Linked DNA regions of Homo sapiens. The protein of the gene in region 1 interacts with the protein of each later gene in a biochemical or structural test. Each region holds a gene or a part of one and is shown on either strand. Other genes may lie near its edges.

Region 1 (7,030 bases):
ACTTAAGGTAAATATGAAATTTTCTTTTAATTCATGGTTGCGTTGTCTGGCAGGACAGAAAAATATTCATTCAGTAAGTGAATTTTTGTTGCAGGCTTAAGTTTAATAGCTGTTTTTTTTTCTTTCTGCTCAACAGACTGCATTGTTAGATATCAGTTGTGTTAAACATATCATTTATGTGGACAATAAGGCTATCAATAAAGCAGAGTACCCTGAAGGATTTGAGATTCACAGCATGCAATCAGTAGAAGAGTTGGGATCTAACCCAGAAAACTGTAAGTAAAGCAGTAAAAACAATTTTATTTACCTATTCCAAGTTTGTTATTTTGGTAGGTTAGGGAAACAAATGACATGAGTAAATCCACAAAAGTTCTTTGACTGAAAAAAAAAAGTTCAAAAATCTTTAAAAACCATCAAGACCATATATGATTAAGATTTTCCCTCCATTTCTCCTCAAAAAAAATAAGTTAGTAAATTTCACTAAGTGGTTGAGATGTAATCTGTGGTTCAGACTTCATGGCAGTTGCTGCCAAATGTTTCTTCATTTTTTAAATAACCCACTATAACCTTCCAATTTGGGCCTCATAAAAGAAAAATATTTCAGGCCTTCCATTCAGTAAACTTTCTGAAATAAATGCTTAATGCTAGTTATCTTAAGGATGTTTCAGAGGATGCAAAGCTGTTTACCAAGATTAATGCTTGGATTTATTTTACCACTGAGGTGGTAGTTGGTATTTCATTTGAAACAAGTAAGTGTACCTTGTAGCAAAATGTCAGTTGGCCATCAGGGCAGAGAGTTGAGGAAATTAATACTCCATTTGAAGAGTTTTCTTATTATGTTTAATGCGATGGTCAAAATACCATACTATAATGAGAAAAGGATTCATTTTTGCAGGAGAAAATGTTGGTCGAACCTCTACTCAGCTTCTGAACATTTTACCATTAGAGAATGAGCATGCGTTTATAATAACAGGTGTTATTATACACATCTGCCATGTGTCCAGAATGGCAGAGAGTCAGATTTTACCCTGCTTGCCGGCAAACAGATGAGCCTGCAAAACTTCCTGGTGCCATAGACTTTTGGGTCTGAGATGAGGGACAGTTTTTTACTCACAACAATAGCAGTAGCCAGAGTATCATATCAGCATTTGTGTCATAAGAGAGGAACTCTGAGCTTAAAGAGCCTGAATATCTTATTATCTTATTGTACTGGACAGTAAGCATGCCTGCTGTTTGCTCTGGGGAGAGACACTATCTCTGTGCAAATATCCTTGTAAAGATAGTCTGGAACAAAGTCAATGTCTCTGCTTGCAAGATGTGCAGAACATGAGACCCATAGAGAATTGTTTTTCTACACTAGGTTGACCCTGTAAGATTGGGATAAACTTGACTGAGAAGTCCTGATTGGTAGGGATCAGTTACAGTTCTGCTGATTGACCACAAAGGGTGTTGGCAGCAAGCTAAGGGGTCAGCAGTCTTCATAATTTTGTGTGAGCAATAATGTAATAGGCCACATATCCCACTTAGTTCTACTCATGTCTGCAATAGATAGGATACATATGTTTTTGTGGTACAGACAGTTATTGTGATGCCACTTTTTTGCATATTTACTTAAAAGTGGGCAGAAGCAAAGTATCACATGTGCTTAGATTAAGAAGAATTTAGCTACTGCTGTTGCTTTGGTTAATCATCAGAGGAAATATGCAGTCCTTATTTGCTTGGTTTATAAACTATGACTATATCTTTAAAAAGCATTAAAATTAGCCAGTTTAAGTGTAACTATCTTTGTTTCAGTGGTATAGCTCACTGTTTTAAAAAAATGTTATTTTAACTGGTATATAAAAATGTAAATAATTTGTGTAAAGATTTTTAAATGTGATAATCCTGTTAAACTTGTATTTCATTCTGATGATATATATGTGGCTTCTTAGCCATTTTGGTATATTCTCGGAAGGAAAAGTGGTTACTAGGCTAGCACTATACACTGTCTTGAAAGTGGAAGCTCCAGGGTTCTGTTTAAAACTTATCACCTTCAAATGTTAGCATTGAAGTCACCTTAAAGATCAGATCCAGTGGTTTTCAATCAGGGGCATATATGAGAATCACTTGTGGAGCTTTGTTCTATCCCAGACATATTGAATCTGAATTTTCAGAAAGGGGGTTCAGAAATAATATTTTATTTAAGTTCTGCACGTGATTCTGATACCCACTAGTGGTTAGTAACCACAATCTGTCCAGCTGTCTTATTTTAGAGATGAGAAACTGAGGCCTAAGAAGTTTATACACATACTCTGTCCTCCTGATACTCCAAAGTCCCAGAAATCTTTCCACAACATTGCTCTGTATACAACACTGTGGAGAGGCAATGCACAGACAGAGATTAGGTTAAACATCCAGAAAATGGGCCAAATTGAGTCCAAAATGCTCACTGTAATCAGAATTTGATAAACATTTTTGTTTTCTAGCCCAGGCTGGAGCACAATGGTATGACCATAGCTCACCATAGCCTCAACCTGCTAGGCTCACCCAGTCCTCCTGCCTTATCTTCTTGAGTAGCAAGGACTGCAGGTGCATGCCACTGCATCCGGCTAACTTTTTTAGTTTTTGTAGCGACAGAGTCTTGCCATGTTGGCCAGGCTGGTCTCGAAATCCAGGGCTCAAGTGATCCTCCCACCTTGGCCTCTCAAAGTACTAGGATTACAGGCATGAGCCACCTCACCCAGCTCGTTTTGATGATTTAAAGCAAATACTGTCTATTGATAGCTTATCGTTATGCAAAATCTAAATATCCTATTATTCTTTAGTAATTTAACTTTTGAACTGAAGTAAATGTGATATTTTTCATTCATTCATTTAGTGGGCATTCCTCCAAGTAGACCAACGCCTTCAGACATGGCCATTGTTATGTATACTAGTGGTTCTACTGGCCGACCTAAGGGAGTGATGATGCATCATAGCAATTTGATAGCTGGAATGACAGGCCAGTGTGAAAGAATACCTGGACTGGGGTAAGATAATTCTTTAACTTTCTTCTTAGAAATCAGAGTTCATGTTCAGCATTCTCTAAACTCAATCTATATTAAAATGATAAAGCTCTTGGTATTTCTAACTTCAAATGCCTTTTCAAGAATGGTTAAAATATTTCTCTTATTTTGTTTTAGACCGAAGGACACATATATTGGCTACTTGCCTTTGGCTCATGTGCTAGAACTGACAGCAGAGATATCTTGCTTTACCTATGGCTGCAGGATTGGATATTCTTCTCCGCTTACACTCTCTGACCAGGTGACAAACTTTTCAGTATATTGGCATGATCGTATGATGCTGCATGGTTTGGCTGAGAACATATTACTAGGACTCGAGATATTTTAATTCAGCTAAAGCTTTCTCCTTGACCTCAAAATAGCTTCCATGAACAATATGTAGCTATAGGAGATTACCCTGTAGATTTGTTAGCATTGCTTTAGCTATATATTTTAAAATTATTTTTTTTTTCTTTTCTTTTGCTCTGTCACCCAGACTGGAGTGCAATGGTATGATCTTGGCTCACTGCAACCTTTGCCTCTCGGGTTCAAGCGATTCTCCTGCCTCAGCCTCTAGAGTAGCTGGGATTGCAGGCGCCCGCCACCATGCCCTGCTATTTTTTTTGTATTTTTAGTAGAGATGGGGTTTCGCCATGTTGGCCAGGCTAGTCTCGAACTCCTGACCTCCAGTGATCTGTCCGCCTCGGCCTCCCAAAGTGCTGGGATTACAGATGTGAGCCACTGTGCCCAGCCTTAAAATTATTTAAAAATGAATAATTACTTTTATCTTTTTCTACTAGATTTTTACTCTTGAGAACTACGATAGAGAATATAAATGCAATGAGCCTTTTTGACACACTACCCATGAGCATTGGTGGGTTTCTGGGAGGAGATATGTTAGGGTCTTGGCCCAGTTTTCCCGAGATTTTTCTAGAGCAGTACCGTCTGATACAGTAGCCACTAGGCAGATATTTAAATAAAAATTAAGGGCCGGGCGCGGTGGCTCATGCCTGTAATCCCAGCACTTTGGGAGGCCGAGGCGGGTGGATCACAAGGTCAGGAGATTGAGACCATCCTGGCTAACATGGTGAAACCCCGTCTCTACTAAAAAAATACAAAAGAATTAGCTGGGCGAGGTGGTGGGCGCCTGTAGTCCCAGCTACTCGGGAGGCTGAGGCAGGAGAATGGCGTGAACCTGGGAGGTGGAGCTTGCAGTGAGCCAAGATCGCGCCACTGCACTCCAGCCTGGGCGACAGAGCGAGACTCCGTCTCAAAAAAAAAAAAATTAAGTAAAATTGAAAAAAATTTTTTTATTTGCTTTAGCCACATTTCAAGCTCTCAATAGCTACGTGTGACCAACGGCTACCATATTAGGCAGCAAAGATAAAGAATATTTTTATCATCACAGAAAGTTCTATTGGTAGGGGCTGAGGCATCTCCAAAGGTAGTCTCAGCTCACCATACTAAGTTAGGATTCTTCCTTCTCTCTGTAGTTCATAGCAGAAATCCCAACAATGGGTGGGGCTAACTCATATATGTTATACCCATTTGAAATTACACACCTAATACTATTGTCCACAGTTCTGTTTTATGTCTTCTTTGGAATAGTTGCTGTAGAAAAGCTTCAACCAGGCTTAGGGGAAAAAAAAAAAGAGCCACTAAAGAAGCTGTGGGGTTCTGGATGCTGAAAGACAAAGCAAGTATAGGTAGGAATGACTTGTCTATACGTGGCTCTGCTCCTCCAACACTGGGGGCCCAGCTGTTGTTTTTCAGACCGCCCCCCACCAGGCAATGCTGCCTTTTGTTTGAGAGTCTCCATGGAGCATGTAGTTGGTAAGATACGTCCTCAGTGTTCACAGTTAGAAATTGTAATACTTTATTTGTAGAAATACCATTTTAGGGAGAGGCTAGATAGGTTGTATACTATTAAAACAAAAAAAGTTAAATAGTTTTTTTTGGACTTGAGATTCCAATCACCTTTGTGTTTTTTTTTTTTTTGATATATGACTTAAAGTGCACAAATATTAAGTGTACTGCTTGATGAGATTTAATAAGCATATACACATATAGACCTCTGTGATCATCACCGTCTAGATTAGGAAAACAAAGAACATTTTCAGCACCCGTGAATGTCCCTTGGGTCCCCTCCTGGTCATTACCACATTGGATTCTCTTTGAAGGAAGAATCCAGCCTTCTTTTAAAGTGGCTTTTTCTGTGAGAACGCATTCTGTTCCAAACAACTCCTAGCTTTGTACTTTAAGAAACACAATCTTTGTATGACAGGGTGCTGCTGTGTTTGACTATACCACTCAGCTATAAATTCACACTTAAAATCTGCTAGAATAGTAATGGTATGAATAAATACACTATCCGATTGATAGCAGAACTTGACCTGGTGAAATCAAAGTAGACCTATCAATAAGACTAAGGCTTAAACTCTAAAACAAATTTAGTAAAATCTCTGATCATTATGTTTTGTTGTCATGGGTTTTTCTTATGCTCAGAGACATTATCAAAATGTAGAAAACATTTCAGTAAACTTTGAGTATAATTTTTTTTTCCCTTTGTGAATTTGGAAGCCAGGACTAGCCGTTCTTTGATTTTTCACTGCCTTTCTGAGAACAATAGCCTCAGTGTGGGAAAGGAGGGACAGTTGGAGTCTGTTGCTGGTCTGACTTAATTCTTGCTGTCTCTTAGGCTAAGCTAGTACATTAGAAGCCTGTTCAGTAAAATTCACACCTACTTTTTAAATGAACTTTACTGTAAAGACTCTCAATCTTACTAGGAATCTAAAACACTGGAACTTGCTTCACATAGGAAATCAGAAGGATGCAGGAGACTAGAAGCACCACATTTGGAGCCAACTGATGATAGCAATATTGTCATAACCAGGATTACTATGATCACAAGAAGACAAAATAACTGATAAAATTACTAAGAGTAAAAAAAACAAAGAAGGGCTTCTTGTGGCTTCTGCTATCCTGGAACTGCTCTCTGTAGCAAGAGCTGGTCAGTAGCATGCAGAGGGCAACTCCGACCTGAAGGACATGAGAGCCCATTTTGTTTCTGCAGAGCAGCCCTCCTGTGTGTGGTGTACATGGTTTCTGTGTAGGTTTCCACTTGCAAATGTGCACATCCTTGCACATATGTAAAATGAGTTATTTTATCTCCTTTATCCATATTAAAGAAAAGTAGGAGAAAGGCAACTTAGTTCTATCGGGAGAACCATCCTCTATATGGCCATTTGTGCACATTTATGTGTATCTCTACTTTGTCCCTGGCAGTGTTCTCAGTATCTTACCAACTAGAATATTACCAAATTAGAGTTTCAGTATGATGTTAATTGATGTTCATAGTGGTGTCTTCAGGATGTGGCTTTGCCTATTGTTAATCAAAGAAAGTTAAAATCACCTTCAATTTTGTTTTAGTGTTATATCTGTCTTAATCAAGTTTTTTTGAAAATGTAGTAATAGTCTGTGCTATATTTGATAGTATGTTATTAATAAGAATGTTTGATTCATCACAATGTCATTCTCTTGTTATCCTGGATCAAGGTTTCTCCTCTAAGGAAGGTGAAATGTGCTAGAAGCAGTTATCTGTAGCACTAAAATACTTACATTTGAGACTTGTAGGTTATGATAGTTGTTAACAGATAATCACAGAGCAATAAAAGCTCAAATTCCAAGTGTAACTTCTGTATTTGTTATTAATACTTGAATTACAACATGTTTTAAGGTTGGTTTTCCTGATCATATTTATTTTTTCTTTAATATAGTCCAGCAAAATTAAAAAAGGAAGCAAAGGAGACTGTACTGTACTGAAGCCCACACTTATGGCTGCTGTTCCGGTGAGTACAGAATATGAATATGAACATAAGAGGATTGTTTATATAATTTATTGATCGTACTTGGACCTTTTAAAAAGTAATACTCTTAGATATGTCTACATTTTAAAATAATTTTACCTTGTTGAAATCACAGCAAATGTGTTCATTAAAATCTTAGGT
Region 2 (7,030 bases), on another chromosome or scaffold:
TCTCCTGACCTCGTGATCCACCCATCTTGCCCTCCCAAAGTGCTGGGATTACAGGCGTGAGCCACTGTGCCCAGACTTTTTTTTTTTTTTTTTGAGACATGCTCTTATTCTTGTCACCCAGGCTAGAGTGCAGCGTTGCCATCTCTGCTCACTGCAGTGTCAACTTCCTGGGCTCAGGTGATTCTCCCACCTCAGCCTCCCAAGTAATTGGGACTACAGGCGCATGCCACTACACCGACTAATATTTTTATATTTTTAGTAGAGACGGGATTTCACCATGTTGCCCAGGCTGGTCTCAAACTCCTGGGTTCTAGTAATCTGCCTGACTCCCAAAGTACTGGGATTACAGGTGTCAGCCACCATGCCTGACCCTAAAATAGTTTTTTATATATTCTGGACACTAAATACTTAACAATAGATGATTTGCAAATAGTTCTCCTAAGAGTTTTCTTGTTTTAGCTCTTATATTTAGGTCATTGCTCCATTTGAGTTCTGTTTTGTTTGTATATGGTGTGAGGTAGGGGTTTAACTTCATTCTTTTCTCTGTGGTTATCCAGTTTTCTCAACAGTGTTTGTTGAAGACACTATTCTTTCCCCATTGAATGTTCTTGGCATCCTTATCAAAAATCAATTGAGGATAAGTATAAGGGTTTATTTCTGGACTCTGATTCTGTTCCATTGATCTGTGTCTCCTTTCTTTTGCCAGTACCACTACACTGTTTTCATTACTGTACCTTCGTAGTAAAATTTGAAATTGAGACATGGGAATCCTCCAACTTCATTCTTTTTCAAGACTGTTTTGGCTATTCAGGGTGATTGAGAACACTTTGCCATATTTGCACTCATGTTGTTGTTGTTATGATGGGCTATTCAAAAGCAAGCTACTGACATCATGGGAATTTGCCATAAATACTTCCGCATATGTTTTCTAAGAAAATATGCATTTCTCTACAAAACCACAATACCATTGTCACATCCAAATAACTTAAAATTATGGAATATGTAGTCCACACTCACATTTCCCTAGTTGTCTTTTTTTTTTTTTTTAATAGGATCTCACGTCTGTTGCCTAGACTAGAGTGCAGTGGCACCATCATACCTCACTACAGCCTCAACCTCCTGGGCTCAAGCGATCCTCCCACCTCAGCCTCCCAAGTAGCTAGGACCACAGGTGTGAGCCACTCTGTCCAGCTCCCCAGTTGTCCTTTATTTATTTTTTTGAGACAAGGTCTTGCTCTGTCACCCAGGCTGGAATGCAGTGGCACAGTCATGACTCACTGTAGCCTCAGCCTCCTGAGTCCCTAAGACAACAGGCGCATGCCACCATGCCTGCCTAATTTTTAAATTTTTTTGTAGAGATGGGGTCTTGCTATGCTGCCCAGGCTGATCTCCAGCTCCTGGGTTCAAGTGATCCTCCTGCCTTGGCCTCCCAAAGTGCTGGGATTAGAGGTGTGGGCCCAGCCTCCCCAGTTGTCCTGTATAACTTTTAAAAACATTTTTCGTTTGGCTCCAGCCCAGGGTCCCACTTTGCATTGCATTGGGCACTCCCCTCTTTCTTGTCTCCTGCACTCTGGAATAGCTCCCACCGTTTTGGTCTTTCCTGACATTGGCCTGTTCAAGGAGACCAGGCTGGTTGTCCTGTAGCCTGCCCCACAACTTGTCCTTTTCTGTTGTCCCTTGAAGATGAGACTAGGGCAAACATTTTTGCCAAGAATACTACAGATGATGCACCTGTCCCACTGCAGTATGGCAGGCAGGGGCACAGTGCCTGATTGGGCTGGCCCGTTCCTGGCATCGCTAAGTTTCACCATTTGGCTGGAGTGGAGTGGCTGCAGGTTTGTGGAATGAATGACTGGTAACAGCTATCATGATGGGTACAGGGAGACAGTGTCCTAATTCACTAGACCACTGCCCCGCCATTAGCCCCATCTGATGGTGAGAACCCCAGTTCCAGAGAGGCTGAGGGACATGCCTGTGTCACAGTGAACAAATGGCATGGATGGGGTGTGAACCCAGCGGTCTGACTCCACTGGCCACATGCAGTCACTGCTCTGCGCCCATCCAAGAACAGAAGGGCTCAGCCGAGCAGGGCAGAGGCAGCTCCAGCTCTGAGTTCCTGTGGGCCAGCACCATGCCTTGTGGCCCTGTCTGCCCACCTCAGCCTTCACCATGCCCGTCTCAGCCCTGATCATCCTGAGGACACAGGCTGTGTTCCTGCTGTCTGATCAGTCGCTCCCTTGTCTTCCATGTGGGCTGGGCAGTCAGGGCACCCGGCAATGCTGCCAGGGTGGTTTTGTGGCACTCTGGAAGAATCTGGGGGCACCAAGGGGAGGCAGCAGGAGGGCGACAGGGACCCAGGCTCAAAAGAAGGCAGCTGACAGGGCTGCACCGCTCACGCCAGCCTGTCTTCTCTCGTAGATGAAGATGTGTGTGTCTTTAAGTGCTCAGTGTCCCGAGAGACAGAGTGCAGCCGTGTGGGCAAGCAGTCCTTCATCATCACCCTGGGCTGCAACAGCGTCCTCATCCAGTTCGCCACACCCAACGGTACGTGGCCCTCCTTCCATTCCGGTGACACCAGCCCAAAGCGCCCAGAGCCCTGGTGGGCAGGGGCGTAGAGCCTGGCTGAGGGGTGGCCCGTGCATCCTTAAGAAGGCTCCACTGCCCTCAAAACCACATTCCCACATGCAGGTATGCCCAGAATACACTCTGGCCTGGGCAGACCCTGGATCCCAGACCCTCCCTCACCGGCTCCTCCGGGTCTTTTGGGGCTTGGCTTCTATGTCCCCACCTCCAAGAGGCCCATCCTGACCACCTGGGACCAGTCTTTCTGGCAGTGGCCAGCCCTGGGCCAGCTGTGACTGGGCCAGCTGTGGATGGAGTGAGGCGAGGTCCTAGAGGCAGGAAGAGTTTGCTCAGGGCGCAGAGAAGCCACCAGAAGGGCTTAACCAACCCACCTTGGGGGCACAGGTGGACACAAGATTCCTGACTAGGGGTGGGAGAACCCCAGGTGGATGCAGCCAGGGTAGCAGAGAGGTGTCCAGGAATGCCCAGGGCTGGAGATGGTCTGAAGGTCCCACCGCAGGCTTGGTTACCAGAGACCTGAAGTGAGTCCAGTGGTTGACACAGGTGCTGGTGCGAGGACAGCTGGAGGTGGAGAGGCTGCGTGCCCATGAGCCACTGCCGGCCTCCCCCTTGTCTCAAGGTAGCTGTGCAGTGACCCAGATGTACCTTGGGCAGCCTGAGCCCTCGGGGCCAGCTGTGTGAAGCTGCCATGCCTGGCTAATTTTTTGTAGAGATGGGTTTTCACTGTGTTGCCCAGGCTGGTCTTGAACTCCTGGCCTCAAGTGAGCCACCTGCCTCAGCCTCCCAAAGTGCTGGGATTACAGATGTGAGCCACCGTGCCCGGCCCCTTTTTTTTTTTTTTTTTTTTTTTTGAGAAAGAGTGTCACTCTGTTGCCCAGGCTGGAGTTCAGTGGTGCTATCTTAGCTCACTGCAACCTCCACCTCCCGGGTTCAAGGCGATTCTTATGCCTCAGCCTCCCGCGTAGCTGGGACTACACGTGTGTGCCACCGTGCCTGGCTAATTTTTGTGTTTTTAATATAGTAGACATGGAGTTTTTCATATTGCCCAGGCTGGTCTCAAACTCCTGGCCTCAAGTGATCCACCCGCCTCAGCCTCCCAACGTGCTGGGATTACAGGCATGAGCCACTGCACCCGGCCGTTCCCACTCTTAAGACTATTTGTATTTTAATATTTTTTATTTCAGTTCTGTCAGTTTTTAAAAGTTGTGCTAAAATCTACATAACAAAATGTGATCATTTTAACCCTTTTGAAGTGTGTAGGTTGGTAGCAAGCAGCACATTAACATTGTTGTGCAACTGTCACTACCGCCCATCTCCAGAACTTGCTCATCCCGAACTGTGTCTTTTCATTGTTTTTGAGACGGAGTCTCGCTCTGTCACCCAGGCTGGAGTGCTGGAGTGCAGTGGCGCGATCTCGGCTCACCGCAACCTCCATCTCCCAGGTTCAAGCGATTCTCCTGCCTCAGCGCCCTGAGTAGCCGGGATTACAGGCACGTGCCACTGTACCCAGATAATTTTTTGTATTTTTAGTAGAGACGGGGGTTTCACCATGTTGGCCAGGCTGGTCTTGAACTCCTGACCTCAGGTAATCCGCCTGCCTCCGCCTCCCAAAGTGCTAGGATTACATGCGTGAGCAACCATGCCTGACCGTGTCTTTTAATTTTTAAAGAGATTGTCTTTTAAATATTGTTTTGTTTTTTACTTGATATAATTTAGTGGCTATTATTCTATGTTAATAAATATAGCTTTATTTTATTTTATTTTATTTTATTTTATTTTATTTTATTTTATTTTATTTTATTTTATTTTGAGACAGAGTCTCACTCTGTTGCCCAGGCTGGAGTGCAGTCACACAATCTTGGCTCACTGCAACCTCCACCTCCCGGGTTCAAGTGATTCTCCCACCTCAGCCTCCTGAGTAGCTGGGATTACAGGTGCCCGCCACCACCCCTGGCTAATTTCTGTATTTTTAATAGAGACAGGGTTTCACCATGTTGGCCAGGCTGGTCTCGAACTCCTGACCTCAAGTGATCCACTCGCCTCAGCCTCCCAAAGTGCTAGGATTACAGGCATAAGCCACCGTGCCCGGCTTATTATTTCTTGTAGAGACAGGGTCTTGCTATGTTGCCCAGGCTGGCCTCTTAAACTGGGCTCAAGCAGTCCACCCGCCTCAGCCTCCCAATGTGCTGGGATTACAGTTGAGAACCACTGTCCCCAGCCAAATAGATAGAGCCTGCTTTAAAGGGCCACATACCATTGCATCTCTGGGAAGGGTGGTGATTGGTGATTCTCTGCCATGCTTTTCTTAATTTTTTATTTCATGTTTTTGTTTTTGTTTTTTAACGAGGCAGGGTCTTGTTATGTTGCTCAGGCTGGTCTGGAACTCCTGACAGCTGATCTGCCCACCTCAGCCTCCCACCTCAGCCTCCCAAAGTGCTGGGATTACAGGCATGAGCCACTGCACCTGGCCTCTACTGTGCTTTTCTGTGCCCCTGGCATTTGTCCAGTCCCCTCTTACTGGACATTGCAGTGTCTGCTGCCCCCACACAGATGCTGCCCTGAGCTTCTGGGTGGACTTGGGCTTATTTGCCAGAGCTTTGACTCCTGGGCCGGTGGGCGTGTGCTTGAGAGAGCTTCACCAAGCTGCCCTTTGGTGAGGAATCCCCAGGCCCACTCCCACCAGACAGCAGCCCCACATGCAGGCTACCTGCCCTCTTCTCATGTCAGTCACCACAGTGCAGGCATGGCTGCCCTTCATCTTTTCTTTGAACTTTGAAAATTGTTTTTCGGGGAAGAGAAATCACCAGCCCTGTATGTTCAAGGGAGAAACGTCAGGACATACGGCCATCCAGAACCTTCCCTCCCAGATGGCCACATGCTGGGTTGCTGACCGCCCCCCGGTGACTTGGCTTCCCTGTTCCAGATTTCTGTTCCTTCTACAACATCCTGAAAACCTGCCGGGGCCACACCCTGGAGCGGTCTGTGTTCAGCGAGCGGACGGAGGAGTCTTCTGCCGTGCAGTACTTCCAGGTGGGTTGTACTCCCCCTCAGCCAGGCCGCCTCCCCCCGGCAGCCCCCCTGCCACTCACCCGCAGGAGGCCACACAGCACAGGGAAGGCCCACCCAAGTTCCCGTCCTGGCTCTGTCCCTTACTGGCCATGTAGCCTTGGGCAGGTTTCCTCTGCTGGCTGGGCCTCAGTTTCCTCATCTGTGAAGCGGAGATGCAGGTGCCTGCCTGAGAGGGTTGCTGGAAGGATCTGAGCACAGGTGGAGCTCAGGGCCACAGGCGTTGTGAATAACGGTAGAGCAGTTACAATGCCCTGAGCGCTCCCTGCATGCCAGGCCCTGGTCTAAGCGCTGTCACATGCACAGAAGCACTTGGACCCTCCCAACAACGCTAGGAGGTAAGTGCTATTATTGTCCCCATTTTACAGATGAGAAAACTGAGGCTCAGAGAGGTTAAGTGACTTGCTCCAAGTCACACAGCTATATGCAACAGAGCCAAGATGGGAAGCCAGGTCTGCCTGATGCCAAAGTCTGTGCCCCTGCCCAGGTGCCACGCTGCCTCCCGATCGCCCGTTGTCTTACAGAGAGACACCACACCTCACCTGCCTGGCGCTCTGAGTTCTAGGGCTCTGTTCGATCTGCTTCTCTTCTTCTTTGGGGCCCTCAAGATGAGGCAGGTGGCCCCCGATGCCAGAACCCTGCCTGTGGCAAATCTTGAGTTCTCCTGGGCGGCTTCCAGGTCCAGGCGGCATCAGCTGTTGCCATCGGCTGCAGTGATAGTGGCGGTGTCCTCCTGGGGGCTGCCCTCCGGCTTCCTGCTCCCTCTCCTGGAGCTGCTAGTGGGGCCCAGGCAGAGGGTGCACGACCTCCCGAGGGAGGTTTGTGCCCTAGATGGCCCCTTGCTCTATCACAGGGCTGGCCAGGGCCTTGGCTGCCTCGTGCCACCATGTGCCCCGTGCCATCGGTATGTCTCTGTTCCAGTTTTATGGCTACCTGTCCCAGCAGCAGAACATGATGCAGGACTACGTGCGGACAGGCACCTACCAGCGCGCCATCCTGCAAAACCACACCGACTTCAAGGACAAGGTGAGTGGCCCGCGCATGTGCCCACCTCTCTGCTTCTGTCTCGGTTTTTTTTTTCTTTGCTCATTGATTTTATCTTTAATTTTCTCAGATTAGAAATGCATTTATCTCAGTTACTGCAGAGGCTGAGGCAGGAGGATCGCTTCAGTCCATGAGTTTGAGGCTGCAGTAAGCTATGATTCTGCCACTGCACTCCAGCCTGGGCGACAGAGCGAGACTCTTGTCTCTTAAAAAAAAACAAATAAACAAGGCCAGGCGCGGTGGCTCACGCCTGTAATCCCAGCACTTTGGGACGCCCAGGCGGGCGGGTCACAAGGTCAGGAGATCGAGACCATCCTGGCTAACACGATGAAACCCC

What was found. Proteins that work in one complex are often made in the same cells at the same time.
Region 2: the proteins of ACSL4 (region 1) and CARM1 form a complex in vitro, tested with the Homo sapiens proteins (one study listed by BioGRID).

Annotation. Positions count from the first base shown.
Region 1 is NC_000023.11:109,674,243-109,681,272, reverse strand, and holds part of ACSL4 (long-chain-fatty-acid--CoA ligase 4), read left to right. Parts: coding exon 1-7; intron 8-136; coding exon 137-275; intron 276-2,857; coding exon 2,858-3,008; intron 3,009-3,161; coding exon 3,162-3,285; intron 3,286-6,799; coding exon 6,800-6,871; intron 6,872-7,030. UniProt on the Homo sapiens protein: Catalyzes the conversion of long-chain fatty acids to their active form acyl-CoA for both synthesis of cellular lipids, and degradation via beta-oxidation. Preferentially activates arachidonate and eicosapentaenoate as substrates.
Region 2 is NC_000019.10:10,902,533-10,909,562, forward strand, and holds part of CARM1 (histone-arginine methyltransferase CARM1), read left to right. Parts: intron 1-2,418; coding exon 2,419-2,544; intron 2,545-5,506; coding exon 5,507-5,613; intron 5,614-6,017; exon of another isoform or gene 6,018-6,262; intron 6,263-6,570; coding exon 6,571-6,675; intron 6,676-7,030. UniProt on the Homo sapiens protein: Methylates (mono- and asymmetric dimethylation) the guanidino nitrogens of arginyl residues in several proteins involved in DNA packaging, transcription regulation, pre-mRNA splicing, and mRNA stability.